2 separate regions of the Homo sapiens genome follow, and region 2 is linked to region 1. The links come from fine-mapping of genetic effects on gene expression. A gene starts in region 1. The other region holds a variant in brackets. All regions are shown on one strand. Distances are from middle to middle. Region 1 holds the start of GRAMD4 (GRAM domain containing 4). Region 2 has its middle 28 kb from the start of GRAMD4.

Region 1 (8,378 bases):
CAGTGGTTCACGCCTGTAATCCCAGCACTTTGGGAGGCCAAGGTAGGCGGATCACGAGGGCAGGAGTTCGAGACCATCTGGCCAACATGGTGAAACCCTGTCTCTACTAAAAATACAAAAATTAGCTGGGTGTGGTGGCGGGCACCTGTAGTCCCAGCTACTCAGGAGACGGAGGCAGAGGAATTGCTTGAACCCGGGAGGCGGAGCTTGCAGTGAGCCAAGATCACACTATTGCACTCCAGCCTGGGCAGTGAGACTCCGTCTCAGAAAAAAAAAAAAAAAAAAAAAAAAAGGAAGAGGGAACTTAGTAGCTATGAAATCCCTAGAGAGAAGAAGATGGAAGAGTCTATATTAAGGGACTGAAAAAAAAAAAGCCACTAAGTAAAAATGTCTAACAGGCCACCAGGCAAAAGTAAAAAGCTCTCATTTGTAAAAAGAAAGTAAAAAATGTCAAAATACGCTATAAAACAAGGAATACAGGTAACAAATATGATACATGAAGGATTAATATCCATGTTACAAGACAACTTGACTAGGCCAGGTGCGGTGGCTGGCACCTGTAATCCCAGCATTTTGTGAGGCCGAGGTGAGTGGATCACTTGAGGTCAGGAGTCTGAGACCAGCCTGGTCAACATGGCGAACCTCCATCTCTGCTTAAAATACAAAAATTAGCTGGGCGAGGTGATGTGCGCCTACAATCCCAGCTACTTGGAAGAGTGAGGCAGGAGAATTGCTTGAACCCGGGAGGTGGAGGTTGCAGTGAGCCGAGATCACGCCACTGCACTCCAGCCTGGGCAACAGAGCAAGACTCTGTTTAAAAAAAAAAAAAAAAGGCAGCTTGACAATGTAGTCAATGTAGCAAAAATGACAAGACCACTTCCTAATACGCGAAAACCTTCAAGCTCACTAGAAAGGAAACTAGGCCGGGCATGGTGGCTCATGCCTGTAATCTCAGCACTTTGGGAGGCCGGGGCGGGCGGATCACGAGGTCAGGACATCGAGACCATCCTGGCTAACACGGTGAAACTGCATCTCTACTAAAAATACAAAAAAGTCAGCCAGGCAAGGTGGCGGGCACCTGTAGTCCAAGCGTCCCAGCTACTCAGGAGGCTGAGGCAGGAGAATGGCATGAACCCGGGAGGCGGAGCTTGCAATGAGCCGAGACTGCACCACTGCACTGCAGCCTGGGGGGCAGCGTGAGACTCTGTGTCAAAAAAAATAAAATAAAATAAAGAAAGGAAACTAAAGCTAACCCGGGCTGCGGAATGCGGCAGAGCAAGCACACAGACGCCCCCTCAACCGGCCACCCCACAACTCAGTACCAGGACCCTAGGACCAAGCTCAAGAAGTGGAGGCCTGGTGGGGGGAAACACGTCACACACCATCCATCAAGACCAGCAGGGCAGGGGGTCCTGGAGCACCCTGGTGGACCCACACAGGACCCCGTCCTTGTAAAGGGATGAAGGCAACTAAAACCGGGACCTTCCTGTGACTGTCGTTATGGCAAACAGGTGCGTGAAGAGACTCGGGCGCTATGGGGCCAGACGTCGGGAGTATGGGCTTACGGTGGTCGTTAACAATTCTCTCTCCAAATCTCCTAAAATGCCTCCCTATTACTTCTTTTCCCACAATATTTTTTAATTACGGTAAAACACACATAATATAAATATTACCAATTTCATCAGTTTTTTTTTTTTTTTTTTTAGAGATGGAGTCTTGCTCTGTCGCCCAGGCTGGAGTGCAGTGGCGTGATCTCGGCTCACTGCAAGATCCGCCTCCTGGGTTCACGCCATTCTCCTGCCTCAGCCTCCCGAGTAGCTGGGACTACAGGCACCCGCCACCACACCAGCTAATTTTTTGTATTTTTAGTAGAGACGGAGTTTCGCCATGTTAGCCAGGATGGTCTCAATCTCCTGACCTCGTGATCCACCCGCCTCGGCCTCCCAAAGTGCTGGGATTACAGGCGTGAGCCGCCGTGCTCAGCCCAACTTCACCAGTTTTTAGCGTGCAGCTCCGTGGCATAAATTACATCTGTGATGCTGAGCGGCTGCCTCCGGACTCGTCTTGTCTAACTGAAACTCTGCTCACTGAATAGGAACTCCCATGCCCTCCCCAAGCCCCCGGTAACCACCATTTTTACTGCTTTTTAATGTTTAAAAAGGAAGGATGAACGGGCTAGGGGAAGTGTAGCAATGTAAAACCTACTTCCTTCCATTTTCAAAAACCCGGCGAGTCCTCCTGGTTGCGGCAGCTGAGAGGGAAGCGGAGGGGATGACCCGGGCGCTGGGGCCTGCAGGCCCTGTGTAGGGCACCGAGCTGGCCTCCACCCAAGGAAAGCAGGGGACACGCTTGGACACGCACAGAACTCTTGGCTGCCTGCAGGGCTCTGGGCAGAGGACAGCCCCCTTGTCTGGGAGGCTGTAATTCCGAGGCCAGGGCTGCCTTCCCAATCACCTCAGGCAAGCAAATGAGGCAATGAGAGAGGGGACAAAGGCCCTGAGTGTCCCGCCTGTCACCATCAGAATGCAATGCGTGCCCCGCCAGTGTCCAGCTACTCCTCAGTCTGCTCTCCCAGCCACCGGCTCAGCCCCAAACCCAGGGTCATCCTGCTGGATGGTTCACAGCGGCCCTTGGGGAGGGCGTCCACACATCAGGGTCCTAGACGACCCTGCTCTCAGCCCCACTGACTCCACCACCCTCCTCACCCAACTCCCTGGGTCCATCAAAAAGACAGACTTTTCAAGCTTCGGTCAGTTAAGAATCAAACTCCATGTCACGACACATGTCACCACACACTGCCAGGGATGGACCTTCCAGCCTTCACCACCAGGGATGGGCCCGGGCTACACTTCCAGCCTGCGCCTGCACCGGGGTAGGGGTGCCCTCCGCGACACAGCGCCAGGGACGGGCCCGGGCTACGCCTCCAGCCTGTGCCTGCACCGGGGTAGGGGTGCCCTCCGCGACACACTGCCAGGGATGGGCCCGGGCTACGCCTCCAGCCTGCGCCTGCACCGGGGTAGGGGTGCCCTCCGCGACACACCGCCAGGGATGGGCCCGGGCTACGCCTCCAGCCTGCGCCTGCACCGGGGTAGGGGTGCCCTCCGCGACACACCGCCAGGGATGGGCCCGGGCTACGCCTCCAGCCTGCGCCTGCACCGGGGTAGGGGTGCCCTCCACGGCCACATGGGCAGCCCCCGCACTGCACTGAAGAGTGCTCCACTGTACACCAGGGTGACTTCATCTCAGTGACATCTGCAAAGAGCCATTTCCAAGTAAGGTCGGGTCCACAGGTACGAGGTGGACATGAATTTTGGGGGAGGACACTATTACCCAGCACACGCCCAACTTACAGATGCAGGAACCAAGGCCCGTCTACACACTGAGCATAGCTCCAGGCTGCACCTCAGGCCAGACCCGGGTCTCCCGACACCGCCCACCTGCGTCTCACCTGCACCTTCCGTCCTGCGTGCTGCAGCCGCGCATCCCCAACCAGACGGCCCCTGCCCTCCCCACTTCTAGCTGCCCATCCCCACCCCCTCCACGGTCCCTGGAGGAAGCCCAGCTCCTCAGCCTGCAGCCCAGCCGCTCTCCCCAGGACCAGCCCCTCCACCTGCACCTACAGGCCCACCCCTGGCAGCCCAGGGCCCCTGCAACTCCGAGCCATGCGGCCCTCTCAGATCGGCCTCCTCCCTCTCGGATGGGCCTCCCTCCCTCTCAGATCGGCCTCCCTTCCTCTCGTCCTGTCAGGTTCTGAGGGGCTTCCTGGGAGGCTCCTCCTCTTGCCGGCCCTCCTGACCAGGCCAGGTTCTCAGGAGGCCTCCACCCTTCCTCACTGGACCCCTGGCCCCGGGCTGCGCAGGTGCTTTACCGGTGGGGTCTGGCCTGCACCCGGCCTTGGGAGGGAGCCTGCCTTTCAAGATCAAGATGGCTCCAGAAGAGCACGTGGTAGCTGGGACCACTGCCCCAGAGAGTAGCAGCTTTTCCCAAGGCTGGGGCTTCCACTCAGATGGGCCCTACCATGTCCCCCTGCCCCCTGCCCCCTGCCCCCTACCTCCGTCTGTCTCAGATACATCCAGAAACACTCTTTCACTGTGGCTCCTTCAGGTCCTGGCCCAGAACCAGGATGTGCTACGAGGACCCAGGAACCATAGCCTCCAAGCCGCCCAACACCAGCAGGCACGGAGAGGGTGGTGTCTGCTGCCCTGGAGCCTGGAGGACTCCAGTCCTGTGCACCAGAGCAGGGCAGCAGGGCTCACCACGGCTGTCCAGGTTCTCCCAGGATCCCCCAGGCTCAGGGCGGCGCCCGGCCAGGCTCCAGGCCCTCTCTGCAAGCAGGACGGAATTGGGCCAGCCAGCCCTGGAACACAAAAGCATGCTGCTCTGGAAACCGCTGAATTGCTTCTGGACACACAAAGGCAACAGTGTCTAGGGAACCCTGGACTCAGAAACCGCAAAGGACTTTATTTCCCCTTCCCCAGCCCAAGATTTAAAAAAAAAAAAGTGGTTCCTGGTCTCTGGCGCTTGCCCTGAGCCGTGTCTCCTTCACACCATCTCCCCTGCTAAAGTTCCTCTCCGAGTTCTGGGTCCCTGGATCACAGCTGACCTCCACATCAGGGCCCGGCTGCTGGCACGCCCTTCATCCCCTTATTATCTGGCGGCTCTCCTGCTGATCCTGGGATAAACAGCATCCGCTTTCCCACAGCCGCCAGCCCTCCTAAGCAATGTCCCTGGGGGACTCGCAGATGTTGAGCGACACAGACACACCTCCCCCACCCCCACTGCAGTGGGCCCCAGCCCCCACCTGGCCCTCCTCCAAGTCTCAGTCCTCTAGGGAAGGTAGCCCCTAAACCTCACTGTCAGAAAGGCCTGGATGGAGGTTAGACCAGCAGCTGGACAGCCAACCTGGGCAGCTGAAGAGGACGTGAGGATGGGGCAGCTGGCAGACTCCAGGGCTTTGCAGAGTGAACAGGAGGACCGGGGGCGGCCAGCAAAGAAGGCCTGGTTCTACCAATACCCCATCGCCAGCCAGGCACCAGGGCTCAGGCCTGTAATCCCAGCACTTTGAGAGGCTGAGGTGGGCAATGCAGTGACACAGAAAGTGAAATAAGAACATGAGCCAGCGTGGTGGTACGTGCCTACAGTCCCAGTTGCTCAGAAGGTTGAGGCAGGAGGATCGCCTGGGAACCTGGGAGTTTGAGGCTGCGGTGAACCACGATCGTACCACTGCACTCCAGCCTGGGTGAGGGCCAGACCTTGTCTCTAAGAACAAAACAAAAACATCCACCCCAATGTCCCCATGCTTACAGCCACATACTTGCACCTCCCTAACTCCTGATGCAAAGAGGCCCAAGGACCCAGCACACACACAGCTCCCTGGGCCCTCTGGGGTCCTGAGACTGCAGATCCTGCCCTTCCAGCCCGTGCCCGACCTTGGCCACTATTGTTCCAACATCAGCCTCAAGAGGTCGGCTCACAACTGATGACATGTGTGCTGCCCCAAACTCAAGGCTTGTCCAGGAGTTTCATCCCCTCCCTGGATTCAGGCCTCAGTCCTGCCAGCTGGGCACAGTCAGGCGGCCTCAAATGCTGATGTCCGTATCCGGGTGTTTGGCTGCTCTCAACCCTGCCCCCTGACCTGGCCTCCCTGCAGGCTCCAAGCCGGACAGCTCACCAGTATCTCAACTATGCCACGCCTGGCACAGACTCGGGTCTCAAGGGGCACTCTGACTGGATGGCACCGTGTCCACCAGCTGTCTGGGTGAAACCCTCAAGAGCCCTTGATAGCCCCGTTCCTCACTCCACTGCCAACCTGCAGCGCACGCCGGCCGCACGCCTCCAGACGGGGCTGCACATCTGTCCACCTCTCCCCACGACCCCAGCCTGGTCCAGGCAGCCGCGTGCCTCCCCTCTCCCCACCACCCCAGCCTGGTCCAGGCAGCCGCGTGCCTCCCGAAGCCTTCTCCACATGGCAAGCATGGTGAGGCCTTCAAAGGCAAAATCAGCCTCTGCAGCGCCCCTGCCAAAGTTCTCCAGGGGCTTCCACGCACCCGGGTCAACACGGCTGCTCCCCCGACACCCTCATCAGCTCTGGCTCATCTAGGCTTGGCTGCAGCTCTGCCGACCCCCTTTGCAACCCTCCGACCACCGCCTCTGTCCCCACTGCAGGGCCCGACACGTTTGGCTCCGGGACGTCGCTCATTTGCCCCATTCCCTAGGCGCCGCCCGCTGTCATTCCACCATCCTGTTTGGTTTGACGTGGGGTCCTTGGATTGCCCTGATGGCTTCCTTGTTTAGCGCTTGTGCCTCCAGTCCTGCTTGGTTAGAACCCGCCTGGTGCTCCCCCGGGGCAGGGGCTGTGTCTGGCTAAGTCTCCAGGGGCTCGGCTCTGCCGGTGATGCTCAGGTGGACTCGAGCTGCAGGCACCCGAGTCTCCCTCTGCAGAGCTTGGCACGTGGTGGGCAGTGACAAACACTTGTTCAGAGAGTGAGGGAGCGACACACAAAGGCAGCCCAGATGCCACGGCTGGGGGGTCCCCGCCAGCCTGAGCCCGCAGCCACCAGCTGAGCTTTCTTTCCTCTGCCAGAGGCCTCAAGAGAAAGGGACACCCATGGACTAGGGACACCCATGGACTCTGCCTTGGGCCCTGCCAAAGCACAGCGTCCCTGAATACACAAAAACTTTTAACTACAAGCCTTCAGTGATCTGGGATGTTTCTCCAGGAAGAAACCTGAATTCCTTCCCTTGGCAAAGTATCTTCAGGCTTGAGTCATACGAGGGTCAGGCTGGAACCCCATGTGGGGAGCTGAGCCTTCTGCACTGTGACAGGGAAGCCACCCAGGGGGGCCAGGGAGCGGGCCCAGGGCTAAGCACACCCTGGGGTGCTAATGCCAGCACGGTGTATGGCCCGCTCTGGGGCCACTTGCCAGCGTGGCCCAGGAGAGACAGTCAGGAAGACTGGGAGGGCCAGGAGATGCCTACGTGAGTCTCCGCTTCTTCCTCTGTGTGCTGGGATCCTGCCCAGGCCTGGGGAGGAAGGAGCTGGTTAATGTTTAAGGACCCAACACAGAGGAACCTACACGCACAAGGGAACCTACACGCACAAGGGAACCTACACACGGGGAAACCTACACGCACAGGGGAACCTACACACAGGGGAACCTACACGTATGGGGGGAACCTACACCCAGGGGAACCTACACACAGGGGAACCTGCAAGCACAGGGGAAGCTGCACACACAGGGGAACCCGCACACATGGGAGAACCTACACACGGGGGAACCTACATGCTTAGGGGAACGTACACACAGGGGAACCTACATGCACAGCAGAACCTACACACGGGGGAACCCACAAGCACAGGGGAACCTACACACTGGGGAACTTACACATGGGGGAACCCACACGCACAGGGGAACCTACACACGGAGGAACCTACACGCACAGGGGAACCTACACACGGGGGAACCTACACACACAGGGGAACCTACACATGGGGGAACCTACACGGACAGGGGAACTTACACATGGGGGAACCCACACGCACAGGGGAACCTACACACGGGGGAACCCACACGCACAGGGGAACCTACACACGGGGGAACCCACACGCACAGGGGAACCTACACACGGGGGAACCTACACGCACAGGGGAACCTACACACGGGGGAACCTACACGCACAGGGGAACCTATACGCACAGGGGAACCTACACACGGGGGAAACTACACGCACAGGGGAACCTACACACGGGGGAACCTACACACAGGGGAACGTACACACAGGGGAACGTACACACAGGGGAACCTACACACACAGGGGAACCTACACACAGGGGAACCTGCACGCACAGGGGAAGCCACACACACAGGGGAACCTGCACACACGGGGGAACCTACACGCACGGGGGAACCTACACGCACAGGGGAACCTACACGCACAGGGGAACCTACACACAGGGGAACGTACACACAGGGGAACGTACACACAGGGGAACCTACACACACAGGGGAACCTACACACAGGGGAACCTGCACGCACAGGGGAAGCCGCACACACAGGGGAACCTGCACACACGGGGGAACCTACACAAGGGGGAACCTACACGCTTGGGGGAACCTACACACGGGGGAACCGACACGCACAGGGGAACCTACACACGGGGGAACCTACACGCACAGGGGAACCTACTCACGGGGGAACCTACACGCACAGGGGAACCTACACGCACAGGGGAACCTACACACAGGGGAACGTACACACAGGGGAACGTACACACAGGGGAACCTACACACACAGGGGAACCTACACACAGGGGAAGCCACACACACAGGGGAACCTGCACACACGGGGGAACCTACACGCACGGGGGAACCTACACG
Region 2 (8,210 bases), 28 kb after region 1:
GGACATCTGTCATCCTGGCCACACTTACGTCTGTGGAAACTGATGGCTATCAGCCTCATAAATGTGATTTCACCAGTTAAGACTCCAGCCCCGATGGCACGAGCCAGCAGCCAGAGTCCCTATCCACGGGAAGCAGGGGGCTGGGCACAGCTAGTCCTTGTCCTCATGGTCAATCCAGGCAGCAGAGAAACTGCGCCAGGCAGCCCTCTGACCTCCCGTCATGGTGCTGATCCAGAACTATGCACAATGATTCCAACAACGTGTCCTCAGAGTGAATTACGAGAAAGTGAACCCATCCTAATGCACTGAAGCAACGCTTCCAGCACGGAGAGCATCCAGGGTCTGGGTGCTTGTCCCACCAGGATAGCAGATTCTTTCTGACCCTCTGCAAGCCCCTCGGCCAGCTCCCACTCCTCCTGTGCACCCACTCCTCAGCCTCCCTGGGTAAGCTGGGAAGGTGGCCAGGGTACAGAAACAGCACTGGGTGTTAAGGCCGGGGATCTGGACAAGTCGTGTTTCACCCTGGCACCTGTCAGATGGGGTGCTCACCTGCCCATGCAGTCACCTGCCTGTGTGGCCTGGGCTTGTGGTTCTCTGGGTGTCCCCATCTTGGCCCCCTGACCGGCCGCAGGGGTCCCTGCGATGACTTGGAGGGGCAGCTGGAAAGGCTGTTCTGGTGGCTGGGTGGGAGGGGTGACGCTCAGAGGGTTCAGGGCAGGAAGAGGGGCCTCCCATGGGTGTGCCCAAAGCCAACCTCACCTAGGGCTGAGCTGCCTTGAGGGGCGCCTGTTTTTCTCTCAAAATGTGGAATCCTCTACCCCTGCACCTCTGTGCCCATACTGACCACCAGGCCCAGAACATCAGGGCGCCACCTCCCCTTTCCAGACACAGGGCCAGGCCCATGGGCTGCAGGATGAGAGTCCCTTGGGTGGGGGACCTTTGTGGCATAAAAGGGAGATTCACAACCCAGGAAAATAAAGTCGGAAGAGACACTATGTCCAGAGGCAGCCAAGTGAAACACCAGTCCCAGTGGCCAATCTCCCCCATGTCCCCGTCTGGATTGTTCCAGAACCCTGAGGCGTGCAGACCCGCTGCGTCGCATGGTCTCTACCTGTAGTTAGTACCCACGCCCACCCTGGGATTGAAAACGTGCCCCTCTTGGGTGCCTGCCACTGACTTCACTTCCCCCACCCTGTGTGTCTCCAGGGGAAAGGCACACTCTCCCCCCGGGCCGCATGTGGGGCTGGGATGCGGACCCAACTTTCCTGCTGCTTTGCCTCGACGCCAGGCCACGCAGTCCACAGGAGGCGGGAACGACAGGTACCTCGGTGACTGGGCACCGCACTCAGAGCAGCAGAAACAAACCTGGTGCAGTCAGAAAGCCCAAGTCCCGATGCACTGGTTACCAGCAGCGGACACAGGCACAGCAAACCACAGACAGCAAAACTTAGTGCTGGCCGGGCTGGAGCCACTCCAGAGCGCTTCAGAACATGTGGGGCGCCCCTCCTCACCCCCAACCCCAGCTCCCCGTGCTGCCCCTCCCCCAGGGTTTGCAGGGCACCAACCCTCTCCTCCCTCCTAGGAGATGCCACCTCACCTGGGACCAGGACAGCCCCAGCCTCCATCTCCAGTCCGGCCCTCCTAGCCCCCCAGGGCAGGACAGATGCCAGGGCCAACTGTCCTGAGACCAAGCTCCACTTTACCCCTGGACATCTCTGTACCCAAAGCCTCCTAAAACACCTAACCCCCCCCACCCAACCAGAGGTCCCTCACCACCCACACAAGCAATGCCCCTTCCTCTACCAAGGGCCCCCCAGAGGGCCAGGAGCCTCCCCCTACCCCAGCCCTCCTCTGGCCAGTGCTCCCGCCACCCCACAAGTGCCAAGGATCCCTGAACACACCTGGCCCCTCACACCCATGTGCTTGCATTCCTGCCCTGGCCTAGAATGCTCTTTATCATCACCCACCATACCCACCCCACCCGCCCACTTCCACCTGTCCTTCCACAAAAACAGGGGCAGGGAGGAGGGGCCCACCAGGCAGGTATGGCCTGTGGGTAGAGCTACAGCAGGTGACAGTGTGGACCCAGGCAGAGAAAGGTGTGCATAGGGTGGTGGGGAAGGGAGAGCACAGGACACACAGAGCTGGGGCAGGAGCCGGGCGTGGGGCAGCTGGGGAGGGGCTGGCGGGATGCTGGGGTGGGGCTGGCAGGATGCTGGGGAGGGGCTGGCAGGATGCTGGGTATCAAGGCTGGCTTCTGCTTGACGGTGAGCCCAGAGGTTCCCATTACATTATTAAAAATAACGAAAATATGGCTGGGTGAGGTGGCTCACGCCTATAATCCTAGCACTTTGGGAGGCCGAGGCGGGCAGATCACCTGAGGTCAGGAGTTCAAGACTATCCTGCCAACATGATGAAACCCCATCTCTACTAAAAAAATACAAAAATTAGCCCAGGGTGGTGGTGCACGCCTGTAATCCCAGCTACTTGGGAGGCTGAAGCAGGAGAATTACTTGAACCCAGGAGGCAGAGGTTGCAGTGAGCTGAGATCGCGCCACTGCACTCCAGCCTGGGTGACTGAGCAAGACTCCATCTCAAAAAAATAAATAAAAATAATGAAAATAGACAAAAGAGGACTATGCACAGACGCCCAACAGCAGCACAGACCCCAGGCCAATGACGCATCCCATTCTATGCCCCGGAAGCCCAAATGATGAAAAAGGGAAGAGGTCTCAGCCCACAAGCCTCCTCCCTTAGAAGGCTGCCCCAGCACTGAACAGCCTGCTACGGGAAGTCACTTAATGCAACACTAGCCCACCTCTGCCCGCCCGCCATGGGACTCTCGGTAGGCCCTGCGGCAGGGGTTGGGGGGCGGTCCCACCTGCCCTCCCTGTGCGGCAGGCCCAGCGGAGAAGAGGCAGTCAGAGAACACCTGCCAAATGGCCAAGAACAACAACGTCCCTTTCACCGTCCAGCTGCAGAAATGGGGATGTCTCTCGCCAAGACCGCCTGCAACAAGGGCCGCCCGCAAGGAAGCTTCTGCTTGATGTGAGGTTCCGGGGAAAAGGAACCAGGCAGGGGAGAATCCCGTGATGGTTCATCAGGCCTCAAAGTCAGAACTTACGACTTTTTAAACGTTTCAGTACAATTTACCTTTCTGCTACTGGTACTGGTAAAGAGGAAAGGTCTGCAAATCAAATAACAGTAAACAAGATATCGATGTTACTTAAGCAAACACGTTACTCTCAAGTATTTGAGAACGGTGTGGATAAAACCA[A/C]TTCCTTTTATGTTTTTGTTCAAATGCTTTCTTTTCTGAAAGCCCGCATGGAGAGTTCTAATTTAGGTTATGTTGGTGAACAAAAATAATCACAATGTGGGGTTTATATCTTCTAATTATACAGAATTTAGGACAAAATATTCATGTAAGTGATTCTGGAATACTTCATAAATAGGTCATATAGGCTCTTTTTATTGCCAAAATTCTTGAAACTCAGTGCAGCAGAGTCATTGTCTCCATGTGGAACTGAAAGCAAGGCAGGCAGCCAGCAGCCCCTCCACGATGCCGGCCACATCCTGGAGGTGCCGGGCGCGGTGTCAGCCAACAAATCAGCCGACACTGGGGTTTTTAAAGCCCCTTGCAGAGCTGGTCACCATACATGTGGGCCGCAGAATTCCAAGACTCTCGGGAGAGAAATTTTGCTTCTGCAGGCGTAGAGGATGTGGTTCCTCCCTGGTGCAGTCGGAACAGTGAAAACATTCAGGAAAGTAACTGAATCGAGCCCCTCCCGGCTGTGAATGACTGAGTTCACCACACAGCCACAGTGGGGCTTCTTCACCTTGCTCGCCATGACTCAGTGCTAACAGCCCACTTCATCCTTTTTTTTTTTTTTGGAAACAGGGCCTCCTCCCTATGTTTCCCAGGCTGGCTTCAAACTCCTGGGCTCTATGGATCCTCCCGCCTTAGCCTCCCAAGGAGCTGGGACCACAGACACGCACCCCTGCACCCAGCTCTGCTGTTTTTAATCGTACAATTAAGCAGTCAGTTATTTAAAAATACACACTTGCCCAACTTAAAAGAACCACACTTATTTATCAATTATGCCAGCTGGGCTGGTGGCAGTAGCAGTGGGCCTCATTCCCTAGGGCACTCTGGGGGCGCAACCCTATGGGGACTGTCCCCCAACTATGGCACCACCTAACCTGAGCCCCGGTGGCCCTGCTGAGCTGGGCGTCAGGATGAGGTCTCGACTCCCGTGACATCAACCAACTTTCCTGGAATGTGCCGTGATGCCCTTGACAAGTGTGGGGACTTGGGGGCGAGAGGGAGGGCCTTGCTGTGTCAAGCCTGCAGGCACAGGAGGGGACACACCAGTCCTGGGCTGGGCCCCAATGTCCACTGATATCACAGATGCTTTCTGACTGTCCCTGGGCATGGCTAACTGAGGGGTGCGGGGGCTGAGGGGTGCGGGGGTTGGCCTTTCTGGGTTTTTTTTTTTTTTTTTTTTGAGACAGAGTCTCGCTCTGTCACCCAGGCTGGAGTGCAGTGGCTTGATCTTGGCTCACTGCAACCTCCGTCTCCCGAGTTCAAACGATTCTCGTGCCTCAACCTCCAGAGTAGCTGGGATTACAGGCACCCACCACCACACCCGGCTAATTTTTATTTTTAGTAGAGACAGGGTTTTGCCATGTTGGCCAGACTGGTCTCCAACTACTGACCTCTGGTATTCCACCTGCCTCAGCCTCCCAAAGTGCTGGGATTACAGGCGTGAGGCACCGTGCACGGCCCGGGGGTGGCCTTTATGAGGGATGCAACCTAGGACTTCAGCAATGTCCGTTAGCCTCTGCCTCATGGAGCTTCAGTAACGTCGTCCAAATGAATTTGGTAAATCTGTCCAAAACAACAAACCCCAACTCCCACCTCAGCCTCCCAAGGAGCTGGGACTACGACATGCACCACCACACCCAGCTAATTTTTTATTTTTAGTAGAGATGGAGTCTCACTATGTTGCCCAGGCCGTTCTCAAACTCCTGAGCTCACGCAATCCTCCCCCTCTCAGCCTCTCAAAGTGCTGGGACTACAGGCATGAGCCACTGCACCCAGCCCTGTTAATTTCTGTTTAAGTCCCTGAAGAGAGAATTTAAGATAACGAGAGATTTCACTATCACACACTGGACCCCGCGGCTGAGAGGGCAGCAGTTTCCCACCTTAGGCCATTCCAGGGCTCTTGCCTTCTCTGGCTGTTTTTTGGGTTTGTTTGTTTTTTTTTCTTTTTCTTTTTAGACAGAGTCTTGCTCTATCACCCAGGCTGGAGTCCGGTGGCACGATCTTGGCTTACTGCAATCTCCGCCTCCCAGGTTCGTGCAATTTTCATCCCACAGCCTCCTGAGTAGCTGGGATTACAGGCACCCACCACCATGCTGGCTAATTTTTGTATTTTTAGTAGAGACAGAGTTTCACCATCTTGGCCAGGCTGGTCTCAGACTCCCGACCACAGACAATCCACCTGCCTCGGCCTCCCAAAGTGTTGGGATTACAGGCATGAGCCAGTGTGCCCGGCCTCTGGCTGTTTTTATAAACTAGTAGTGTCCATCGTCCTTAGCTGTCCTCAGACAACACTGTGGACTCTCCCCCAATCTCTCTGAGCTCCTCCTCCCCTCACCCAAGCACGCCCTGGCGGGACCTCTGCTGCTCTCTCCCTCCCCTGTTGACACTCACCTGGGCCCAGCCCGGGTTTCTCCCCTCCCATTCCCCTCTACCAGGCCACCAAACCAGGCCAGTCACGAGCAACAGGCAGACACCAGCTGACTGGGTGTTAACGGCAGCAGCCCAGGCCTGGTCACACACACAGTGGCCCAGGTCACCTCCTCCTTGGGACGCGCTCCTGGCCAATCCCAGCCCTCGGGGTTAGTGGAGCGCTCACCCATCCCCGGCACCTTCTCAGCTCTCTGCCAAGGACTGGCTGGAGGAAGGACACTGGGAGAGGTCCCCAGTACTCCCGAACCCCACCCACTAGCCACCTTCCCCCAGCTTCCCAATCAAAGCCTCCCACCAAGAGGAATCAGGCCGAGGGCCATCCATGTGGCCCCAGAGCTGTCACAGTCAGACTCCCAGCTCCGCCCCTCTGGACGCAGGAGGCACGCAGGGCACAGGGCTGTCCAGGCGGCCCAGTAGCTGGTGTAGATGTGGGGGCAGGGCTCTGGCCCCCCAGGCCAAGGCTCTCCTGACTGCCACGGCTCTGCCCACCCGGGCCAACAGTAGGCAGGAATCAACCAGACTCAGGGCTCCCAACCAGGCCAGGACCCATCCTGCAAGACTGCCGTGGGAGTTACAGGAGGCGACACGGCCTCCCCACCAATACATGCCGCAGGAACCAGGCAGCAGGGAGGGCCACGAGGGGAGCTGGCTGAAGGGGTAGGGAGAAAGCTGCAGAAAGGGTGTTGACAGGAGGCCTCTCTGAGGGGCTGAGGGAGGGGAGGCAGTCAGGCTGCTGGGGAGCAGGGCAGGGGCTGAGGTCCTGGCAGTGCAGCAGGCCTCAGGGTGCACACAAAGCAGGTGGGTCACCTAGAAACCTGAGGAGTGGGCTGGGCCAGAAGAGTTAAGGATCCACCCCATGAGGCTGAGGAGTGATCTTCCAAAATACTTAAATAAAGCAAACAGAGCGGGACTGGGGGGTAGCCACAGGGCATGGGCCCTGCAGGCAGAGCTGGGAACTCTCAGACACCCGCTTACTCACCTGCAAAGCAGGGGCAGCATGGGCCCTTCCAGGGTCACTGCAGAGGTGGCAGCCACCCCCCACATCCCCTGGCCCCAGCAGGTCTTCAGATAATAGGGCCACCCACTCACCTTCTCCCTGGGCAGCCCTCCCCATCCCCCCAAACAGCCCAGCCCCACACTGGGCCATCTGCCCTCGGGCCACGTGAGGCACAGCCCTCACACCCACGGCTCCCCCATATCAGAGCTGCCCCCACACCCAGGACTCCCCCACATATCAGAGCTGCCCCCACACCCAGGGCTCCCCCACATATCAGAGCTGCCCCCACACCCACGGCTCCCCCATATCAGAGCCGCCCCCAAACCCAGGACTCCCCCCAAGAGCCAGGGCTGCCCTCTTTAACAAGGCTCCAGGGCTTTCGGGAAGGCAGCAGCGACTGGAGGGACAAGGACACTGAGCCAGGGTCTCCCAGCTCTGAAAAGGTCCTCCCTGGAGCACCAGCAGGCTGGGGAGTGTCGCCCATCCAGGTCCCCCCGCCCCCTGCCGTCCCTGCTTCTCCCATCAGTACTGACGAAGCACCTGCTGCGTACCCAGCCCTCTGCCCAGCGCCACAGTTACGAGCTGTGGTTGCACTGCCACGGGCCAGCACAGGACATCTCAAATGTTTAAGAGAACTCTGCTGTCACCAACCTTACTGTGGGAGGGGGTGGGGAGACGCTGGCAGAGGCTGGGTCACCAGCCCCAGGCCCCACAGCTATGACAGGACCTGAGAAGAAAGGCTTCGGCTCCAGCCCAGCCCAGCCTGGGCCACATCCAGGCTCTGCCCAGCCCGGACCGACGCCAGTGTCACATGCCCTCCTGAGACCTGTGTCAGGGAAGCCTAAGGACCCCGGGGATGGAGAGGGCGGTGCTGGGGCTCCTGGATCAGGCCGGGGAAGGAGGACGGACGAAAGGGTGGGCACCCCGCAGCTCCAGGAGCACTGGCCACCCCTGCCCCCCAGCCAGGAACATCTTCAGATCGCTCATTCTCCAAAGGCAGCTGATGGCTAAGACTGCGAGGGACAGGGTGGGGCCTTGTAAAAGCTTAGAACGTGGCTGGCCAGAGGCCACAGCTCCCCTCTTGCCCTCTGTAGTGGTTTGACCCACTCCGCAGATACCAATATGAACAGCACTCGCCCGGGGAGGGTGCTCCAACAAGCCAGCCGGGTCTGCCCCACATCCACAGAGCTCAGCAGGCCTGCCACCTCCCTGCCCTTGCGTGGTGCTGCCTGGAGGGATGGAAGACGGACAGCCAGACAGGGACGGAGGTGTGCTGACCTCAGCTCTGCCCCTCCTGACCTACTGGCTCCTCATCCATCGGGTTGTGGGGGACGCTGGGCAGTCACTGGGGTTACCTGGCTTCTCCCATGCTCCTAGGTTCTCAAAGCAGATGGGGTGGCTGGGGGTGACCCCCCAGGGCCTGCCTATCCTGAGTCACAGCTCTAGATGTCCGGTTTA

What was found. PIP is the estimated chance that this variant, and not a neighbour inherited with it, causes the effect.
Region 2: its variant is fine-mapped to the expression of GRAMD4 in whole blood (TOPMed, PIP above 0.99).

The regions. Positions count from the first base shown.
Region 1 is chr22:46,616,239-46,624,616 of GRCh38, reverse strand. It overlaps GRAMD4 (GRAM domain containing 4), which reads right to left and starts at 4,231. Exons shown (of 19, transcript NM_015124.5): 1 at 4,052-4,231. RefSeq lists enhancers at 2,492-3,003, 5,432-6,199.
Region 2 is chr22:46,588,128-46,596,337 of GRCh38, reverse strand. It overlaps a transcript of GRAMD4 not described here. Among named protein-coding and RNA genes, the nearest start is that of GRAMD4, 28 kb to the left of the region's middle. RefSeq lists silencers at 2,776-2,835, 8,163-8,210. The variant A/C (reference allele first, on the strand shown) is at 3,278.